Regions from separate parts of the Homo sapiens genome. Here region 2 is linked to region 1. Evidence: fine-mapped expression QTL. A gene starts in region 1. The other region holds a variant in brackets. All regions are shown on one strand. Distances are between the middles of the regions. Region 1 holds the start of TRPM4 (transient receptor potential cation channel subfamily M member 4). Region 2 overlaps TRPM4 (transient receptor potential cation channel subfamily M member 4).

Region 1 (10,984 bases):
TCTTGCTTTCTAAAGGTGATTGGCACCTGAGTAAGTAACAGGGGTTTGGAGAATGAGAAATTCATTTGAAAATGTAGGGTCGGGTATGATGGCTCATGCCTGTAATCCTAGCACTTTGGGAGGCTGGGGCCAGAGGATCACCTGAACCCAGGAGTTCGAGACCAGCTGTGCAATATAGTCAGACCCTGTCTCTAAAAATAAATAAATAAATAAAATAAAATAAAATAAAATTAGCCAGGTGTGGCAGCATGTGCTTAGGAGGCTGAGGCAGGAGGATCACTTCAGCCTGGGAGATCAAGGCTGCAGTGATGCAGAGAGCTGTGACCACGCCACTGCACTCCAACCTGGGCAACAGAGTGAGACCCTGTTCAAAAAAAAGAAAAGAAGGAAAGAAAAGCAAGCAAGCAAGCAAGCAAGCAAGCAAGCAAGCAAGCAAGAGGCCGGGCGCAGTGGCTCATGCCTGTAATCCCAGCACTTTGGGAGGCTGAGGCGGGTGGATCATCTGAGGTCAAGAGTTTGAGACCAGACTGGCCAACATGGTGAAACACTGTCTGTACTAAAAAAAATACAAAAATTAGCTGGTCGTGGTGGCGGGTGCCTGTAATCCCAGCTACTCAGAAGGCTGAGGCAGGAGAATTGGTTGAACCCAGGAGGCAGAAGTTGCAGTGAGCCATCACACTATTGTACTCCAGCCTGGGAGACAAGAGCGAAACTCCATCTCAAAAAAAAAAAAAAAAAAAAAAAAAAAAAAAAAACTAAGGAAAGAAAGGAAGGAGGGAGGGAGAGAGACAGAGAGGGAGGAAGGAAAGGAAGGAAGGAAGGAAGGGAGGGAGGGAGGGAGGGAAAGAGAGAGAAAGAAAGAGAAAGAGAGAAAGAAAGAAAGAGAGAGAGAAAAGAAAAGAAAAGAAAGAGAAAGGAAGAAAGAAGGAGAAAAATGTATCTAAATTCTTTGTTCCAGATTCCAGGAGTTCAGATATCAGGGGAGACCTGTATTTACACAAACCTAGTGAGCAGATTTAAGAGCAATTTTACAGAAGGGATAGCAGAGGTGCTACAAGGATTTGGCAAAAGCCGTAAAGACACTAAAAGAACGGCTAACTGATCCACACATGGGATGAACCAAACACACTTAGGCCAGGTCCTGGCACAGTGAGAACTACAATAAAGTGTCTTCTTCATTCCTGAGTCTACCTCCAGGGCCCTGGCATGCCTCAGTTTACCGACTTTGTCCGTTCACCCATTTCAGCTCCATCCTTGAATCCCCTAGTTCCCCTGCAGCTACTTCCAACACCTGCAGCTACTTCCCAGAAAGTTTGCTCTTCTGAGCAAAACTTCAAGGACGGCTGGGCACAATCCAAGCACTTTGGGAGGTCAAGGCAGAAGGACTGCTTGAGCCCAGGAGTTTGAGAACAGCCTGGGCAATAGAGCGAGACCCCATCCCTACAAAAAAAATTGTTTTAATTAGCCAGGTGTGGTGGTGCACGCCTGTGGTTCCAGCTACTCAGGAGGCTGTAGCAGGAGGATCACTTGAGCTCAGGAGTTCAAGGCTGCAATAAGCCATGATCACACCACTGCAGTTCAGGCTAGGCAACAGAGCAAGACCATGTCACTAAAAATAAGAAATAAGGCCGGGCATGGTGGCTCATGACTGTAATCCCAGCACTTTGGGAGGCCAAGGCGGGCGGATCATGAGGTCAGGAGTTCGAGACCAGCCTGGCCAACATAGTGAAACCTTATCTCTACTAAAAATACAAAAATTAGCCGGGCATGGTGGTACGCGCCTGTAGTCCCAGCTACTCAGGAGGCTGAGGCAGGAGAATCACTTGAACCTGGGAGACGGAGGTTGTGATGAGCAGAGATTGTGCCACTGCACTCCAGCCTGGGCAACAGAATGAGACTCTGCCTCAAAAAAAAAAAAAAATAATAATAATAAAATAAAAGCTCTTCACGGAATAGTCTGGAGCTTGTACTGTCCAATGTGATAGCTGCATGGGTTCTTTGTAGCCATGGAGCTCTTTCTGTTCTAATAAGTTAAAATTAAATCAAATAAAAAATTCAGGTCAAGTGCAGTGGTTCATGCCTGTAATCCCAGAACTTAGGGAGGCCAAGGTGGGCGGATCACCTGAGGTCAGGACTTTGAGACCAGCCTGGCCAACATGGTGAAACCCTGTTTCTACTAAAAATACAAAAATCAGCTTGGCATGGTGGCGGGTGCCTGTAGTCCCAGCTACTCGGGAGGCTGAGGCAGGAGAATGGCATGAACCCGGGAGGCGGAGGTTGCAGTGAGCCAAGATTGCACCACTGCACTCCAGCCTGGGCGACAGAGCGAGACTCCACCTCAAAAAAAAATTCAGTTTCTCAGGTACAATGGCCATATTCCAAGTGCCCAGTAGCCCCCTGTGGCCAGGACTGCCATATTGGATGTAGACATAGAACGTTTCCAAAATCGTGGAAAATTCTGACATTCAGTGCTAGGAGCCATTCCTTCTGCACAGCTTGCCTCCTACACTCTTTCCTCGGTGGAGCCACAGAAACTGAAATAAATTGTTTTTTTGTTTGTTTGTTTGTTTTGTTTTGTTTTGAGATGGAGTCTCGCTCTGTCTCCCAGGCTAGAATGCAGTGGTACGATCTCAGCTCACTGCAACCTCTGCCACCTGGGCTCAAGCGACTCTCGTGCCTCAGCATCCTGAGTAGCTGGGATTACAGGCATGTGCCACAGTACCTGGCTAGTTTTTGTATTTTTAGTAGAGATGGGGTTTTACCACATTGGCCAGGCTGGTCTCAAACTCCTGACCTCAAGTGATCAGCCCACCTCGGCCTCTCAAACTGCTGGGATTACAGCTGTGAGTCACTGTGCCTGGCCTGAAATTGTTCTTGATAAAAATCATCAATTTCCTGCCTGGCTCCATATACAACGGCCCTTATTCAGGTTTCATCTGACTGTATCACAAGTGGCCCTGGCTACAGCTGAAAGGCTCTCATTCTGGAAACCCTCTCCTTGGCAGGATACCCCTGCCCCTCTGGCCTTCCTCCCCGCCCCGGCTGCTTCATGCCTGACTTGTTTGTGGCTTTCTCTTGCTTTTCACCTCCCTTGAGTGTAGGTGTTCCCAGTGCAAGCCTTCCCTACATGATTCTCAAACCCAATGTGTGCAGAGGCCAGTCAAGTAACTCAACAGAAAGAAGTAGCCAGGGCCAGGAGCAGTGGCTCACACCTGTAATCCCAGCACGTTGGGAGGCCCAGGTGGGCAGATCACTTGAGGTCAGGAGTTCGAGATCAGCCTGGCCAACATGGTGAAACCTTGTCTCTACTAAAAGTACAAAAATTAGCCAGGCGTGATGGTGGGTGCCTGTAATCCCAGCTACTCGGGGGGCTGAGGCAGGAGAATCGCTTGAACCCAGGAGGCAGAGGTTGAAGTGAGCCGAGATCGCACTACTGCACTCCAGCCTGGGTGATAGAGCGAGACTCCGTCTCAAAAAAAAAAAAGAGGTAGCCGGGTATGGTGGCTCTCGCCTGTAATTCCAGCACTTTGGCAGGCAGAGTGAGGTGGGAGGCTCACTTGAGTCCAGGAGTTGGATACCAGCCTGGTCTGGTATCAAAGGGAGACCCGGTTTCTACAAAAAATTTTAAAATTAGCCAGGCATGGTGGTGCATGCCTGTGGTCCCAGCTACTCCGGAGGCTCATGTGGGAGGATCGCTTGAGCCCAGCAGGTCAAGGCTGCAGTGAACCATGATCGTGCCACTCCAGCCTGGACAACAGAGCAAGACCCTGTCTCAAAAAAAAAAAAAAAAAAAAAAGAGAGAGAGACAGAAGACAGATATTTTTAAATGCTCTTCTAAACACACACACACACAAACACACGCACACAATTGGCTATAGAATTGCCAGTTTGCAACTCCCCTGACTTTACACGTTGTTTTCCCTGTGACGTCTTACCTACTTCCAGTTTCAATTACCAGCTACAACTCGGACCTCTCAGATTCTGGACATTAGTCCAGACCTTTCCCAATCTCAGTCCCCACATGCCCCTCGGTCCCCCTAGGCCGCTCATATGCACAGATTCCCACATTGCACTCAGCGACATTTCCCAAACCTGCTTGCCCTCCTGAGCTCTCCATCTCAGGGACAGCCCCACTGTGTCCCAGTCAGCAGAGCATACGTCCCGGAGCCATCCACCGATGGCGGCACCCCCTCTCTCCCTCATCACCCTCATCAAGCCCCAAGCTCTGCCTTCCTGCCCCCTGAGTCTTTGCCCCATGCCCTCCTCTCTGTGTCCCGAAAGCCCTGACCTGGCTCAGGCCACTACCCCTCCCGCTCAGACGCTCTCTACAGCCTCCTCCCGAGCTCCTGTTCATCCTCTCCCAGCCCCAGAAAGTTTTTCCACACCCAGAGCCAACCCCACTGCTGCGGTGATGCCCCAGCTCCCAAGGACAAGATCCCAGCCCCTTAGGGTGGCCTCTGACACCCTGCAAGCTCTGGCCCTGCCCTCCTCTGCAGCCTCTTCTCTCATGACAGTGCTCCCTGCACCCTGAACTTTGATTCATATTCAAGCCAAACCATATGGTCCTTAGCAAGGACTTTGCACATGCTGTTCAAATCACTTTTTTCTTTCTTTCTTTCTTTTTTTTTTTTTTTTTGAGATGGAGTCTTGCTCTGTCACCCAGGCTGGAGTGCAGTGACGTGATCTCTGCTCATAGTAGCCTCCGTCTCCCAGGTTTAAGTGATTCTCCTGCCTCCTGAGTAGCTGGGATTACAGGCATGCGCCAATACGCCCAGTTAATTTTTGTATTTTTAGTAGAGATAGGGTTGCACCATGTTAGCCAAGCTGGTCTCGAACTCCTGACTTAGGTGATCCACCCGCCTCGGCCTCCCAGATTGTTGGGATGACAGGCGTGAGCCACAATGCCCGGCCCCAAATCGCTTTCCATGGGCCTCTCTCCAGCTCACTTTCAAATGTCACCTCACTAGCCACTCTTCCTCCCTCCAGAAACCATTAGTGACATTTTGTGTCCCCTCCCAGTCTTAAGCAAACACCTCCTCCCAGCTCTCACAGAGCCCAGTGGCTCGTCTTTGGGAGCTGCAACCCCTTGCCTTACTATAATTATCTTCTGCGTTTCTTCCTCCTCAGGCCAGACCAGAGTTTCCTAAATTGTCTTGACCACACTGACCTATCAGTAAAAAGGTTTTGAGCACTCACGTCCAACAAGCGCATATCTGTTTATTTATCCATCATTTACAAGCCATACTGCACTAATATATAGTCATAACAAAATACACACTGAAGTAGGAATGTGGATACTTCCCGCACCCCAAAAACTGTCTTGAAAAACAACTAGAGGGCTGGGCGCGGTGGCTCACACCTGTAATCCCAGTACTTTGGAAAGCCAAGGCAGGTGCATTGCCTGAGATCAAGAGTTCAAGACCAACCTGGGCAACAGGGTGAAATCCCGTCTCTACTAAAATACAAAAAATTAGCTGGGCATGGTGGTAGGCACCTGTAATCCCAGCTACTAGGGAGGCTGAGGCATGAGAACTGCTTGAACCCAGGAGGTGGATGTTGCAGTGAGCTGATATCGCAACACTGCACTCCAGCCTGGGCGACAGAGCCAGACTCTGTCTCAAAAAAACAAAAAACAAAAAACTAGAAAGCCTGGGCCAGGTGCGGTGGCTCACACCTGTAATCCTAGCGCTTTGGGAGGCCGAGGCCGGCGGATCATGAGGTCAGGAGATCGAGACCATCTGGCTAACACGGTGCAACCCCGTCTCTACTAAAAAAAAAATACAAAAAATTGGCCCAGCGCGATGGCTCACGCCTGTAATCCCAGTACTTTGAGGGGCTGAGGCGGGCGGATCACAAGGTCAGGAGATCGAGATCATCCTGGCCAACACGGTGAAACCCCGTCTCTACTAAAATACAAAAAATTAGCCGGGCGTGGTGGCGGGCGCCTGTAGTCCCAGCTACTCGGGAGGCTGAGGCAGGAAAACGGCGTGAACCCGGGAGGCGGAGCTTGCAGTGAGCCGAGATCGCGCCACTGCACTCCAGCCTGGGGGACAGAGCGAGACACCGTCTCAAAAAAAAAAAAAAAAAAAAAAAAACTAGAAAGCCTGGATCCGCTTGAGAGGCCGTCACTGAAGGGCGGGAGCTCCTCGCGGACGCACACACCCTATCTAGCTCAATTGGTGTCCCCGGCCACCAAGACAGGGCCCGCCCGCGGTAATAATTGCCACCTCCCAGTGGGAGCTGCAGATATTTCCCAGCGTCCTGTGCTGGGCGCTGTGCCAGGAATATCACAAGCATTAACTTGTTTAATTCTCATAATAACCCCAGGAGATCAAGCCTCTTTTGATGCCCAGATGAGAAACGGGACCCAGAGAGGTGAAATGATTTGCCCGAAGCCACACAGCACGTGTCCCAGGGGAAATTGGAACCCTGGCAGGGCCGTTGAATTAGGCTAAAGGGACCTTGGGAGCGCTGAGTGAGGGTTTCTTGCATGGATGGATGAATGAATGAATGAATGAATGAATGAATGAATGAAACAGAAATACCCAAAAGGGAAAGACAGAGACACAGAAAGTGACACGAAGAGACAGAAGCACATAGAAGAGACATCGGGGAGGAAAGAAGCAGAACCGAGCCCTGGAGCGTCTACACTGACCCTGAGCGGGAGAATGGCGAATGGGGAATGAGGGGTGTCTACACAGACCCAAACGCTCCTAGAGGGAGAGCGTCGGCAAGGAACGCCCTTGGGAAGGTCCCCGAGTCCAGGAATGGGGAAGGAGCAGGGCTGGGGCGTGACCATCCGCGGGCGGGGTCAGCGGGCCGCGGACCCTCTGGGGTCAGTCCAGGGGCGAACTCCTCACCCCGGATCTGTGGAGTCAACTATGAACGTCGTGCAGGTCTTCTTCTTGAAGATCTTGGGGATCCAGCTCTGGGGACAGGAACAAATGTAGGGGTGGAAGTGGGGTGAGAGGGCACCCAGTTCTGTCCTATGGGACACAGAGCCACCCACCCCGTGCGCTCCCCACGGACACAGGAGTCCGGGCCCCCAGCGCCCTCCCGCTCCAGACTCAGGAGTCTCGACCCCCATGCCCTGGACCCTGGAACCTGGACCCTCCCATCCCCCTCCTCCGTCTGACCCAGGAATCTGGGTGTCCAGCGCCCTCCTCTCTGGGAGCCTGGAGGCGAGGTCCCCAGCTCCGCGCTCCCGCAGACCCTGGTCCGGCGCTCACCTGCTCCTTCTCCGGCACCACCATGCTGCCGCGGCCGCCGCAACCTCCTGCAGCCCAGGGCCCCGGCGCTCCCTCCGCCGGCTCTGCTTCCAGACCCGCCCAGAGCAAACCGGATCCTCCACTTTCCAGCCTAGCCTGGGGCGGGGCGAGGTCTGGGGGGCGGGGAGTCTTGGAGACGCCAAAGCGGGAGGCGGGGAGAGGGCGGGTCCCAGGCCGCGATAAGGGGACAGAGGGACAGCGACCTGGGGGGTGCAGAGGTCCGGGCCGGGGGGAGAGAGACACACAGGGGAGACTCCAAGGGCAAGCGCGAGATGGGAACAGAAGGAGTTGGGGGCCAGTGGCGGAGAGGGAACAGACTCAGAAAGGAGGATGCCAGACAGGGAGGGGACAATTTAACCCAAAGAGGGGGAGACAAAGACTTAGGGGACAGAGAATCAGAAGGTGGGGCAGCAGGGACCCAGGGATAGACAGAGAGAGAGGGGGACAGAGACCCACAGAGAGAGGGGGACAGAGACCCAGGGAGAGGGGACAGAGACCCAGAGAGAGTGGGACAGAGACCCAGAGAGAGTGGGACAGAGACCCACAGAGAGAGGGGGACAGAGACCCAGGGAGAGGAGGACAGAGACCCAGAGAGGGGGGGACAGAGACCCAGAGAGGGGGGGACAGAGACCCAGGGAGGGGGGGACAGAGACCCAGGGAGAGGGGACAGAGACCCACGGAGAGGGGGACAGAGACCCAGGGAGAGGGGACAGAGACCCAGAGAGAGGGGGACAGAGACCCAGAGAGAGGGGGACAGAGACCCAGAGAGACGGGGACAGAGACCCAGAGAGAGGGGGACAGAGACCCAGAGAGAGGGGAACAGAGACCCAGAGAGAGAGGAGGACAGAGACCCAGAGAGAGGGGGACAGAGACCCAGAGAGACGGGGACAGAGACCCAGAGAGAGGGGGACAGAGACCCAGAGAGAGGGGAACAGAGACCCAGAGAGAGAGGAGGACAGAGACCCAGAGAGAGGGGGACAGAGACCCAGAGAGGGGGGGACAGAGACCCAGGGATGGGGGGACAGAGACCCAGGGAGAGGGGACAGAGACCCACGGAGAGGGGTACAGAGACCCAGGGAGAGGGGACAGAGACCCAGAGAGAGGGGGACAGAGACTCTGAGACAGAGGGGGACAGAGACCCTGAGAGAGGGGGACAGAGACCCAGAGAGAGGGGAACAGAGACCCAGAGAGAGAGGGGGACAGAGACCCACAGAGAGAGGGGAACAGAGACCCAGAGAGAGGGGGACAGAGATCCACAGAGAGAGGGGGACAGAGACCCACAGAGAGAGGGGAACAGAGACCCAGAGAGAGGGGGACAGAGATCCACAGAGAGAGGGGGACAGAGACCCAGGGAGAGGGGGACAGAGACCCAGAGAGAGGGGGACAGAGACCCAGGGAGAGGTGGACAGAGACTCTGAGACAGAGGGGGACAGAGACTCTGAGAGAGAGTGGGGACAGAGACCCAGAGAGGTGGATGCCAGAGATGGGGAGGAGACACCTTGACTGAGGCAAGGGGCAGAGGGGGATGCAAAAACCAAAGAATTGGGGGAAGGGCAGGAACTCAGAAAGGAGGGGCCAGAGATTTAGGGGAGAGAGAGGGACACAGACTTGGGGGAGGACTGACACTAAGATAAGAGTGGGACAGAAGCCCAGAGTGAGAGGGAGAGGCAATCCCATGGAGGAGGGACAGGGACCCTGAGAGAGCAGATGACAGAATTGAAGAGAGAGGAGGACCCGTGAACAGGAAAGGAGACCCTAGTGGGGGCAGTCATGAAGGGTGAGGAGTAGGAAATACTGACACACAGAGACGGGCAAGGCCACTTGTCTCCTGCCAGCCCTCTGTGATGGGGACAGCTGTGGCCTCCGTAACCTGAGTCCCCCTACCCCTCCCAGCTGTATTTATAGCCCTGGCCTAGCCCAGTCCCTGCCCCCAGATCTGAGTTCCAGGGACAGGAGGTCATGGGCACGTGTGTTGGGGGCCATGTTCCTTTCCCCCCATTCTAGGGCCTCAATACTGACATCACTCTCTCACCAGCACGTATCATTCCAGCTGGAAACACCCCGCAATCGAACCCCCAGTCCTTCCGTCCCAGGAGTCTCTCCCCTCTGATAAGTCTCTTCTGCCTCCCCCAGGTGCCCCAGGCTCCCCCAAAAACCTGCTAAAAGTCTAGCCTTTGTCTTTGCAGCTGCCAAACGTGAGCTTGTTGGTAGTTCAAAGTCAAGTCCCTTGGCCACCGTCTCCTGGCCAGGGAGAGACCCCTCACTGGTCCCCTCCCCAGCTGGGAGGAGGAGGAGCAGGAGGCAGGCAGGCGGGGACTGACCCAGAATAACTCAGGGCTGAGAGTAAATTTAGCTGGAGAGAGGGGAGGGGAAGGACCCTATTGGCTGGGGAATGGGGAGGGAGGGCCCCAGAGGGGGGTCAGGGGGCTCCGGAGACAGCCTCAGAGGGGTGTCCAGAGCCAGGCAGCAAGGACCAGAGGAAGGTGGACAGAGACCGAAAGGACAAAGGAGAGACACAGAGAAAAAAAGAGACCAACCCCAAAGGGACAAAGACCCCAACGTTTGTCCACATTGCCGCAGAGGCAGCTGGAGCCAGTGCTGCCTGTCCGTCCCCATGGGCCACCATAGGCCATGGCTGCACGCTTCTGTCCTCTGGGCTGGGGTGGCCAGCCTGCTCCTCCCCCCGGCCATGACCCAGCAGCTCAGAGGGGATGGGCTAGGCTTCAGAAACCGGAACAACAGCACTGGAGTCGCCGGGCTCTCCGAGGAGGCATCAGCAGAGCTTCGCCACCACCTCCACAGCCCTAGAGACCATCCAGATGAGAACAAGGATGTTTCCACAGAGAATGGGCATCATTTCTGGAGCCACCCAGACCGTGAAAAGGAGGATGAAGATGTCTCCAAGGAATATGGGCACCTACTCCCAGGCCACAGGTCCCAAGACCACAAAGTCGGAGATGAGGGTGTCTCAGGTGAGGAGGTCTTTGCAGAGCATGGTGGGCAGGCCCGTGGGCACAGAGGCCACGGGAGTGAAGACACGGAAGACTCAGCTGAGCACAGGCACCACCTCCCCAGCCACAGGAGCCACAGCCATCAAGACGAGGATGAGGATGAAGTTGTGTCCAGTGAGCATCACCATCATATCCTCAGGCATGGACACCGAGGCCATGATGGGGAAGATGATGAAGGAGAAGAGGAGGAGGAGGAGGAGGAGGAGGAAGAGGAGGCCTCCACTGAGTATGGACACCAGGCCCACAGGCACCGAGGCCATGGGAGTGAAGAGGATGAGGATGTCTCAGATGGACACCATCATCATGGCCCCAGCCACAGGCACCAAGGCCATGAAGAAGATGACGATGATGATGATGATGATGATGATGATGATGATGATGATGATGTCTCCATTGAATATAGACACCAGGCTCACAGGCACCAAGGCCACGGGATTGAAGAGGATGAAGATGTCTCAGATGGACACCATCATCGCGACCCCAGCCACAGGCACCGAAGCCATGAAGAAGATGACAATGATGATGATGATGTCTCCACTGAGTATGGACACCAGGCCCACAGGCACCAAGACCACAGAAAGGAAGAGGTTGAGGCTGTCTCAGGTGAACACCACCATCATGTCCCTGACCACAGGCACCAAGGCCACAGAGACGAGGAAGAAGATGAGGATGTGTCCACTGAACGTTGGCACCAGGGTCCCCAAC
Region 2 (10,984 bases), 43 kb before region 1:
CCCACCTCGGCCTCCCAAAGTGCTGGGATTGCAGGCTTGAGCCACCATGCATGGCTTTTTTTTTTTTTTTTTTTTTTTGAGACAAGGTTTCACTCTGTTGGTGGCACAATCATGATGGTGGTGAAATCATGGCTCACTGAAGCCACAGCCTTGACCTCCTGGGCTCAAGCCTTCCTCCCACCTCAGCCTCTTGAGTAGCTGGGACTACAGGCATGCACCACCACGCCTGGCAAATTTTTTATTTTTTTATTGAGATAAGGTCTCACTATGTTGCCCAGGTCGGTCTTGAACTCCTGGCCTCAAGTGATCCTCCCACTTTGGCTCCCTAAAGTATTGTGATTGCAGGCACAAGCCACCATGCATCATAATTTTTAAAAATCGTAAACTAGGAATAGAAATAAACTTTCTCAACATGAGAAAAGGTACTTCTGAAAAACCCACAGCTACCGTCATACCCAATGGTGAAAGAGTGAAAGCTTTCTGCCTAAGATCAGGGACAAGACAAGGATGTCCACTTTTACCACTGCTATTCCACATTGTGCTGGAAGTTCTGGCTAGAACAATTAAACAAGAAAAAAAATAAAAGGCATCCAAATTGGAAAGGAAGAAGTAAAAATATCTCTATTCACAGATGACATGATCCTATATATAGGAAATGCCAGAGAATCACAAGAAAGCTTCTAGGGCTGCAGATTCAGCAAAGTTGCAGGGTACAAGATCACACAAAAATCAGTTGTGTTTCTACACACCCGCAATGAACAATCCAAAAAGGAAATTAAGAAAGCAATTCCACTTACAACAGTATCTAAAGGTTAAGCACCTAGGAATAAAGTTAACCAAAAGGGTGAACAATTTGTAGCCTGAAAACTACCAAATACTGCTGGAAAAGCATTAAAAAGAACACCTAGATGAAATATCAATACTACCCGAAGCAATCTACAGATTCAACGCAATCCCTCGGAAAATTCCAACAACTGGCCGGGCGCGGTGGCTCACACCTGTAATCCCAGAACTTTGGGAGGCCAAGGCGGGTGGATCACCTGAGGTCGGGAGTTCGAGACCAGCCTGACCAACATGGAGAAACCCTGTCTCTACTAAAAATACAAAATTAGCCGGGCGTGGTGGCACATGCCTATAAGCCCAGCTACTCAGGAGGCTGAGGCAGGAGAATCGCTTGAGCCCGGGAGGCAGAGGTTGTGGTGAGCTGAGATCGCGCCATTGCACTCCAGCCTGGGCAACAAGAGTGAAACTCTGTCTCAAAAAAAAGAAAAAAAAAAAAGGAAAAAAAAAGAAAATTCCAACAACCTTTTTGACAGACATGGAAACTCTGATCTTTAAGTTCATATAGAATTGCAGGAGGCCCAGAATAGCCAAAACAATCTTGAAAAATAACAAAGGAGACTCATACTTCCAATGTCAAAATTTGCTACAAACCTACAGTAATCAACACTGTGTGGGCTAGACATGGTGGCTCACGCCTGTAATCCCAGCACCTTGGAAAGCCGAGGCAGATCACCTGAGGTCAGGAGTTCAAGACTAGCCTGGCCAACATGGTGAAACCCTGTCTCTACCAAAAATACAAAAAAATTAGCCGGGCGTGGTGGCAGGTGCCTGTAATCCCAGCTACTCAGGAGGCTGAGTTAGGAGAATCGTTTGAATCCAGGATGCGGATGTTGCAGTGAGCAGAGATCGTGCCACTGCAATCCCGCCTGGGTGACAAGAGCGAGACTCCGTCTCAAAAAAAACCCAAAAAACTGTGTGGTTCTGGCATAAGGATAGACGCAATCCAGTGGAATAGAATTGAAAGTCCAGAAATAAACTCATAAATCTATGAGTGTCATGCATTGAATTGTATCCCGCTAAAGATATGTTGAAGTCCGGCCGGGTCCAGTGGCTCACGGCTGTAATCCCAGCACTTTGGGAGGCCGAGGCAGGTGCATCACCTGAGGTCAGGAGTTTGAGATCGGCCTGGGCAACATGGTGAAACCCCGTCCCTACTAAAAATACAAAAATTAGCTGTGTATAGTGGCAGGCACCTGTAATCCCAGCTACTCGGGAGGCTGAGGCAGGAGAATCCCTTGAACCCAGGAGGTGGAGGTTGCAGTGAGCCGAGATCACGCCATTGCACTCCAACCTGGGTGACAGAGCAAGACTCTGTCTCCAAAAAAAAAAAAAAAAAAAAAAAAAAGTTGAAGTCATAACCCATAGTGCCTCAGAATGAGACCTTTTTAAATTTTTTATTTATGAAATATGTGGCTTTATTCGGAAATAGAGTTTACACATGTGATCAAGTTAAAATGAAGTTATTAGCATGGTCCCTAATCCAATTTAAGTAACGTTTTATTAAAAGGGGAAATCTGGAAGATGAAAGCAGAAGTTTCAATGACGCAACTAGAAGCCAAAGATGGCCAGCAAAGCACTAGACGTGACAGGAGGGGCATGGAACAGACTCTCCCCGACATCCCTCAGAAGAAAACAGCTTGACGGATGCCTTGATTTTGGACCTCTAGCATCCAGAATTGTGAGACAATTTCTGTGATTTAAAGCCACACAGTTTTTGGTACTCTGGCGGCCCTAGGAAACTAATACAATAGGTCCAGCACAGGGGCTTGTGCCTATAATCCCAGCACTTTGGAAGGCCAAGGCAAGAGGACTGCTTGAGCCCAGGGGTTCAAGATCAGCCTGGGCAATATAGTAAGACCCCATCTCTGAAAAAAAAAAAAAAAAAAAAACAACCAAAGCCAATGAAATTTTATATTTTCTCAGCAAAAATCATGCCAACAAGAAAGGAAGCAAACAGAGAGACCTAACATAGGATTAAAAAGGAGTTTCATTAAAAAAAAAAAAAATAGCCGCTGGGCACGGTGGCTCACGCCTGTAATCCCAGCACTTTGGGATCCAGCCGAGATGGGTGGATCACAAGGTCAGGAGATCGAGACCATCCTGGATAACATGGTGAAACCCCGTTTCTACTAAAAATAAATAAATAAAATAAAAGTAAAAAAAAAATTAAAAAAACAAGCCAGGTATGGTGGCACGTAACTGTAGTCCCAGCTACTTGGGAGGCTGAGGTGGGAGGATCACTTGAGCCCAGGAGGTTGAGGCTGCAGGTGTGAAGTGGTATCTCATTTCTGGTGTTTTGGTAGAGACAGCAGCCTCGCTATGTTGCCCAGGCTGGTCTCGAACTCTTGTGCTCAAGCAATCCTCCCACCTCAGCCCCCCAAAGTGCTGGGATTACAGGCATGAGCCACTACACCCAGCTGGATGACTATAATTTTTACAAAAGGAAAATAACAAGTGTTGGCTAGGATGTGGAGAAATTAAAACCCTCATACACTGCTGGTGAGAATGGAAAATGGTGCAGCTGCTGTGGAAACCAGTTTGGTGGTTTCTCAAAAAGCTATACATAGAATTACCACATGACCGAGGAATTCCACTTTGAGATACACACCCAAAGGAAATAAAAACAAGGATTCAAATAGATACTTGCATGCCAATGTTCCAACAAACATTAGTCACAATAGCCAAAAGGCAGAAAGAACCCAAGTGTTCATCAACAGATGAGCGGGTAAATCAAATGTGGTCTTCTTTTTTTGAGATGGAGTCTCGCTCTGTTGCCCAGGCTGGAGTGCAGTGGCACGATCTTGGCTCACTGTAGCCTCCGCCTCCTGGGTTCAAGCGACTCTCGTGCCTGAGCCTCCCAAGTAGCTGGAATTACAGACATGAGCCCAGCTAATTTTTGTATTTTTAGTAAAAAGGGGGTCCTGCCACGTTGGCCAGGCTGGTCTCGAACTCCTGACCTCAGGTGATCCACCCGCCTAGGCCTCCCAAAGTGCTGGGATTACAGGCATGAGCCACCACGCTGGGCCCAAATGTGGTCTATTTGTACAATAGAATATTACTCATTCATAAAACGGAATGAATGAAGTTCTGATGCACACTACAACAGGGATGAGCCTTGAAAACATGCTCAGTAAAATCAGCCAGACACCAAAAGACAAATATCGCATAATTCCACTTACATGAAACATCTAGACTAAATCCATAGAGACAGAAAATACACTGGAGGTTACTAAGACCTGTGGGGAGGGGAAGTGGGGAGTTGCTGTTTCATGGGGACACACTTTCTGTTCTGGGTGATAGAACGTATTGAAAATAGATAGTGGTGATGGTTGGAGAGTACTGTAAATGTAATTAATGTCACTGACTTGTACACTTAAAAATGGTAAAAATCAACTCCGGCCGCGGTGGCTCATGTCAGTAATCCCAGCACTCTGGGAGGCCAAGGCGGGCGGATCACAAGGTCAGGAGATCGAAACCATCCTGGCTAACACGGTGAAACCCCATCTCTACTAAAAATACAAAAAATTAGCCAGGTGTGGTGGCGCACGCCTGTAGTCCTAGCTACTTGGGAGGCTGAGGCAGGAGAATCGCTTGAACCTGGGAGGTGGAGGTTGCAGTAAGCTGAGATTGCACCATTGCACTCCAGCCTGGGCGACAGAGCGAGACTCCATCTCAAAAAAAGGCGGGGCGCGGTGGCTCACGCCTGTAATCCTAGCACTTTGGGAGGCCAAGGCGGGTGGATCACGAGGTCAGGAGATTGAGACCATCCGGGTTAACACGGTGAAACTCCGTCTCTACTAAAAATACAAAAAAATTAGCTGGGCGTGGTGGCGGGCACCTGTAGTCCCAGCTACTCAGGAGGCTGAGGTAGGAGAATGGCGTGAACCCGGGTGGCGGAGCTTGTAGTGAGCTGAGATTGTGAGATCGTGCCACTGCACTCTAGCCTGGGTGACACAGCGAGACTCCGTCAAAAAAAAAAAAAAAAAAAAAGAAGTAAAAATGGAAAATTTTATATAATTTTACCACAATAAAAAACAAAGTTGGCTGGGCGCGATGGCTCACACCTGTAATCCCAACACTTTGGGAGGCTGAGGTGGGCCAATCACTTGAGGTCAAGAGTTCAAGGCCAACATGGTGAAACCCTATCTCTACTACAAATACAAAAAATTAACTGGGTATGGGGGAGTGGGAAGTGGAGGTTGCAGTGAGCTGAGAACTTGCCACTACACTCCAGCCTAGGTGACAGATTATCCCAGCACTTTGGGAGGCTGAGGAGGGAGGATCACTTGAGTCCAGGAGCTCGAGACTAGCATGGACAACATAGTGAGACCCCTCTCTCCAAAAATTTTTTTAAATTAGGCAGGCCTGCTGGCCTGGCTAATTTTAAGTAGTCCCAGCTACTTATGGGGCGAAGGCAGGAGGATTGCTTGAGTCCAGGAGGTCGAGGCTGCAGTAAGCTACGATCACATCACCACACTCTAGCCTTGGCGACAGAGTGAGACCCTGTCTCAAAAAAATACAAATAAGGAAGTTCAACCTGGGCTCAGGGAGAGGATCAGTCCAAAGTCCAAATTACAAGCAGGGTCTGGTTGGGTTTGGGGAGAAGGCAGCATTAGATTGGATCAGAGTTCAGGGACTAAAAACAGAATTCATTAGACGGGGTTCAAGAGTCATGAGAGGGCCACGGGTCATGCTGGGTGGGGTCAGATCAGAGAGCAGTCAGGCCTCACCTGAACATGGCAATGAGCAAGTTGACCAGCAGGATGTTGGCCACGAGCAGGAAGATGACGAGGAGCAGCACCACCAGCCAGTTGGCATACTGGGAGACGCAGGTGCCCGCCTGGGCCCCAGGAGGGTGTGCCCAGAAGCCGGGCTCCGACGAGCAGTTGCTGTGCTCCATGAGGGCCACTGTGAAGAGAGACATTCAGAGATGGGGTGAGGGGGACAGAGACCTAAGAAAGACAGGAAGACTGCCGGGCGCGGTGGCTCACGCCTGTAATCCCAGCACTTT[TG/G]GGAGGCTGAGATGGCCGGATCACCTGAGGTGGGGAGTTTGAGACTAGCCTGACCAATGTGATGAAACCCCATCTCTACTAAAAACACAAAACTGTTAGCCAGGCGTGGTGGCACGCGCCTGTAGTCCCAGCTACTCGGGAGGCTGAGATAGGAGAATCGCTTCGATCTGGGAGGTGGAGGTTGCAGTGAGCTGAGATCGTGCCATTGCACTCCAGCCTGGGCAACAAGAGCAAAACTCCATGTAAAAAGTAAAGTACAGGTTCCTCTTCAAAGACTTTCCTCCCCATCTAATTAACAATAAATAGTAACTTCTCTTAGAAACAAAATTTATTCAAACACCTGTGCTAACATTCTTAAATATCTACTAGCCATAAAAAATAAATCAATGTACTTTATGTTCTTAGCTCTCACAATTTAGCCTAAATATTTGCCCTGACATACTTATACTGGTTCAAGCAAGCATTAGATCATAGCCTGTTCCTCTTCCTTATTTAAAAGTGTTTTTACCTTTCTCAACATTCCACAAGTTACTTCCTCCTTCCTTTGTTCTCCTCTGCCTTCGCTTCTTTTAAAAACTTCTAAGTTACTAGCCAATCAAGACAAATACAAAATGTAAAGTCCGGTTCCAGCCAATAAAAACCAGACACAGCAGTAAAATAGACGCGTCAGGTTATAAATGACCCTATCTCCTTTGTTCCGTGTACTCTCATGACAAAACTGCTGGCGAGTGTACCCTTTCTACAAAAAATAAAAATGGCTTTACTAAAAAAATTAAATTTATGTTCAAGTACTATTTCTTTACGACACCACAAAATAAACATTTCTAACATCCATCTCAAAAAAAAAGAAAAAAAAAAAGAAAAAAGAAAGACAGACAGAAAGACAGAGGGGGTGGGGTAGGCAGAGACCCAGAGAGATGATGATGGGGAATATAGGGTATCACTCAGAGATCCAGAGAAAGAGGGAGACAGAGACTCAGAGAGACAGATATTTTCTTAGAGCCAGGAGGACAGAGACCCAGGGAGCGGGGACAGAGACTCAGAGGAAGGCTGTCAGGCCGTCATCCCCCCTACCGTCCATGTCCTCCTGGGGAATCTGCCCGAAGATCTGCAGGTAGGGACGGTAGAAGACGCGGCGCAGGATACTTGGGAAGTCACTGTCCCGTGGCCTCAGGAGCCCCTCCGTGGCCACGCCATAGGCTACCAGCCACACGCCGAGGAAGAAGAGGAAGAAGAACACGTCCTTCATCTGTGGGGAGATGTGGCTGAGTCTGGCCCCGCCCTTTCCTACTCTGGCCCCACCCCTATATCCCAAAAACACGCCCCATTGCTCCCCAAAGTCACGCCCCTTCTCCACGGACCACTCCCTCCCTGGCCCCACCCCTTTCCCTATGTCCCCGCCCACTTTGGCCCCGCCCCTGCCTCACCATCTTGCTCACGATGACGATCTTGGGCCCCAGCTGTTTGTTGACCGTGAAGATGTGAAGCAGCCGCACCGTGAAAACCATGAAGTCGATGCAGAGGACAGTGCGGCCCAGGTGGTACAAACCCGGGGTCAGCCTGGGGTGTGGGGAGATGCCACAAGGGTCAAGTGTCACAAGACGCCAAGGAAAATGGAAGTCTTCCCAATGCCATCCTTCAGAGGAAGCTGCAGCCTCCACCGGGCAGGACCAGGACCCTCCCAGTCACCCGGGGTTTACTCAAATTTATTCAGTACCAAGCTGGTCCATGCAGGGCCCTGGCACCCATTTTTAAAATGGCTGCGCCTATTAAGTAATGACTGAATGAACGATGGCCTTAGCAAAGAGCTGGTCCCTGTAAGAATCAAGCTGGAAAAACTGCCGGAATATCTGTCCAACCTATAAAAGGCAAAACATATAGAGTCCTTACAAACTAATACGCAAAAGGAAGGAAGCCAGATAAAGGATACCACGTACAATTCACAGAGGACGTTCAAACGGCCAGTAAACATCAATAATTCCTATGGGGAAAATAAAAATTCTACCCCTATTTTGCATCCTCATGTACTTAAACTTTGGATGGATTAAAAACCTAGTGTATGGACAGACGCGGTGGCTCACGCCTGTAATCCCAGCACTTTGGGAGGCCGAGGCAGGCTCAAAAAAAAGAAAAGAAAAGAAACATACAAAAGTGAAAGTGAAAAGACAAGCCACAGACTTCGAGAAGATATGAAGATATTAAGACCAACAAAACTACCGAGGATTAGGATCCAGAGTATAAGGAGTATATACATTTATACATATACAAATCAATGAACCCCAATTAAAAAAACGGGAGGGTGGCCGGTCGCAGTGGCTCACGCCTGTAATCCTAGCACTTTGGGAGGCCGAGGCGGGCGGATCACGGGGTCAGGAGATCGAGAACATCTTGGCTAACACGGTGAAACCCCGTCTCTACTACAAAATACAAAAAATTAGCCGGGCGTGGAGGCAGGCACCTGTAGTCCCAGCTACTCAGTAGGCTGAGGCAGGAGAATGGCGTGAACCCGGGAGGCGGAGGTTGCAGTGAGCCGAGATCGCGCCACTGCACTCCAGCCTGGGCTACAGAGCGAGACTCCGTCTCAAAAACAAAAACAAAAACAAAAACCAAAAAAAAAACAAGGGGGCACAAGGACATATGGCCATTAAGCTTAGGAAAAGATGTCCAACCTATCTGGTAGTCAAGAGTGCATAAATTATAACAAGGAGAGGTCATGTTTACCCATTAAATTGGCAAATTTTTTTTCAGTTAAATTGAGAGCTACATTTTAGAGTGAAAGTATCAGGCATTGTCGAGCATGGCCTCAAGGGGGCACTCTCTTACCCTGATGGCAGGTGTGGAAATGAGTGAAGCTACTTAGAAGGAAATCTATCCATGTCAAAAATAAATGTACCCTTTGACCCATAAACTTTACATCTGGGATGTAAACTTTTATTATTTTGGAATAATAAAAAAACAGAAGGCTGAGCATAGTAGCTCACGCCTGTAATCCCAGCACTTTGAGAGGCCAAGGTGGGAGGATTGCTTGAGCCCTGGAGTTTGAGACCAGCCTGGGCAACAGAGTGAGACCCTGTCTCTATTTAAAACAAAAAAAGAAAGAAAGAGAGAACCTAAATGTCCATCTAGAGGGAACTGGCGAAACAAAGGATGATTCATCCATTCAATTCCGGAGATGATTAGACATTTCTCCCTTTTTTTTTTTTTTTTTTTTTTGACAGAGTTTTGCTCTTTTCACCCAGGCTAGAGTGCAGTGGCATGATCTTGGCTCACTGCAACCTCCGCCTCCCAGGTTCAGGCAATTATCCTGCCTCAGCCTCCCGAGTAGCTGGGATTACAGGCGCCTGCCACCATGCCCGGCTAATTTTTTGTATTTTTAGTAGAGATGGGGTTTCACCATGTTGGGCAGGCTGGTCTCAAACTCCTGATCTCAGGTGATCCACCCGCCTCGGCCTCCCAAAGTGCTGGGATTACAGGCATGAGCCACCACGCCAGGCCCGTTTCTCCCTTTTAAGCTGAGATCTTTCCATTTTTCACCTGGAAAGTGGTAGGCTTGATAAACTGTCCAAAATATCACTGGCAATCCTAGAGCATGGTAGCATATGGCCTTAGCCCTTTCATCTCAAAAGTCACTTTATACAAAATACAACAAATTACAAACAGAAGTATTAGTGTTCTGCAAAACTCTCATATCTTGCTCCCTGCTTGAATAAATTATTTATGTTGAATCACTTTGTAACACTGCTAACATAGCTTAGAGGAAGCCTGCCTCTCAGCGTGTCTACTGGGAAAAGCTTGAGTAGGGATCATCACTGTCATCACTGTCAACCATTCAGGATGTGTCAGGTCCCTTGTAAACAGTCACCAGGTTGTTGGCCAGGCACGGTGACCCACATCTGTAATCTCAGCACTTTCAGAGGCTAAGGCCAGTGGATCACTTGAGGCCAAGAGTTCAAGACCAGCCTGGTCAATATGGCAAAGCCCCATCTCTACAAAAAAAATACAAAAAAAATTTAGCTAGGTGTAGTGGTGCATGCCTGTAATCCCAGCTACTCACGAGGCTGAGGCAAGAGAATCGCTTGAACCCAGGAGGTGGAGGTTGCAGTGAGCCAAGATCGTACCACTGCACTCCAGTCTGGGCGACACAGCGGAACTCTGGCTCAAAAAAAAAAAAGAAAAGAAAGAAAACAAAAACAAACAAACAAACAAAAAACCAGTCACCAGGTTGTATCCACAAACTTTTCTGTTTGCTCTCCTCAAAAGGAGGAGTATCCTAATGCAGGATACTCCATAATGCAGGCAGGGCAAGGGTTAAACCCTTAGCTTGGAGGGATGGAAGGAAGCATAGAAGGAAGGAAGGAAGGAAGGAAGGAAGGAAGGAAGGAAGGAGGGAGGGAGGCAGAGGGGCAGAGGACAGAGGGAGAGAGAGAGAAAGAAAAGAGAAAAAGAAAAAGAAAAGAAAGGAAAAGAAAAGAGAAAGAAAGAAAAGAAAGAGAGAGAAAGAAAGAAAGAAAGAAAGAAAGAAAGAAAGAAAGAAAGAAAGAAAGAAAGAAAAAGAAAGAAAGAGAAAGAAAGAAAGAAAAAAAAAGGAAAGAAAGAAAAAGTCGGGGGCAGGAGGGCAAGGGGCCTGGGACCAACGAGCTATGTGGAGGAAGAGAAGGGAGGAGGTGAGGTTGGCACCCAGGTCGGGGCGCTCCCATAAATATCTGTTAAACTTCAGGCCTAGCAATAAATAGCAGCAGAGGCTGAGTGGCGGACAGTGGGGTTTTCTCCTGAATCCTGCCGTCCCTGAAGCCAGATCTCCAGGTGCCAGCCAATTACCCTGGGGCAATCGTCATGCCCGACTTTCCTAAGAGGGGTTCTCAATCAGCAGGGTTGGCTTGACCTGCTGCCCAGCTGCGGGGAAGCCGGGAGTGGAGACCCCGGGAGTGGGCAGGAAGGATGAGAGGTGGCCAGGGGCCAGGGTTCCAAGGCCCCGGGGCACTCACCGGCAGCCCACGCCCAGGAGGAAGCAGGTGAGAGCCACTAGGTCGCACTGGTTCCAGCTGTCGGCGAGGTAGAGGCGCAGGCGCTGGCTCAGTGAGGCATGGCCAGGCCCGGGGCCCCCGCTGGCGAGGCTGCCCCCGCCTCCG

Evidence for each region. PIP is the estimated chance that this variant, and not a neighbour inherited with it, causes the effect.
Region 2: its variant is fine-mapped to the expression of TRPM4 in whole blood (TOPMed, PIP above 0.99).

What each region holds. Positions count from the first base shown.
Region 1 is chr19:49,154,136-49,165,119 of GRCh38, reverse strand. It overlaps TRPM4 (transient receptor potential cation channel subfamily M member 4), which reads right to left and starts at 7,328. Exons shown (of 25, transcript NM_017636.4): 1 at 7,230-7,328; 2 at 6,861-6,928. The coding sequence starts at 7,253. HRC (histidine rich calcium binding protein) reads left to right here and starts at 9,724. Exons shown (of 6, transcript NM_002152.3): 1 at 9,724-10,984. The coding sequence starts at 9,883. RefSeq lists a silencer at 6,103-6,289 and an enhancer at 6,973-7,594.
Region 2 is chr19:49,196,731-49,207,714 of GRCh38, reverse strand. TRPM4 (transient receptor potential cation channel subfamily M member 4) reads right to left here. Exons shown (of 25, transcript NM_017636.4): 17 at 10,841-10,984; 18 at 7,283-7,415; 19 at 6,930-7,104; 20 at 5,574-5,751. Among named protein-coding and RNA genes, the nearest start is that of TRPM4, 44 kb to the right of the region's middle. RefSeq lists a silencer at 10,630-10,956. The variant TG/G (reference allele first, on the strand shown) is at 5,855.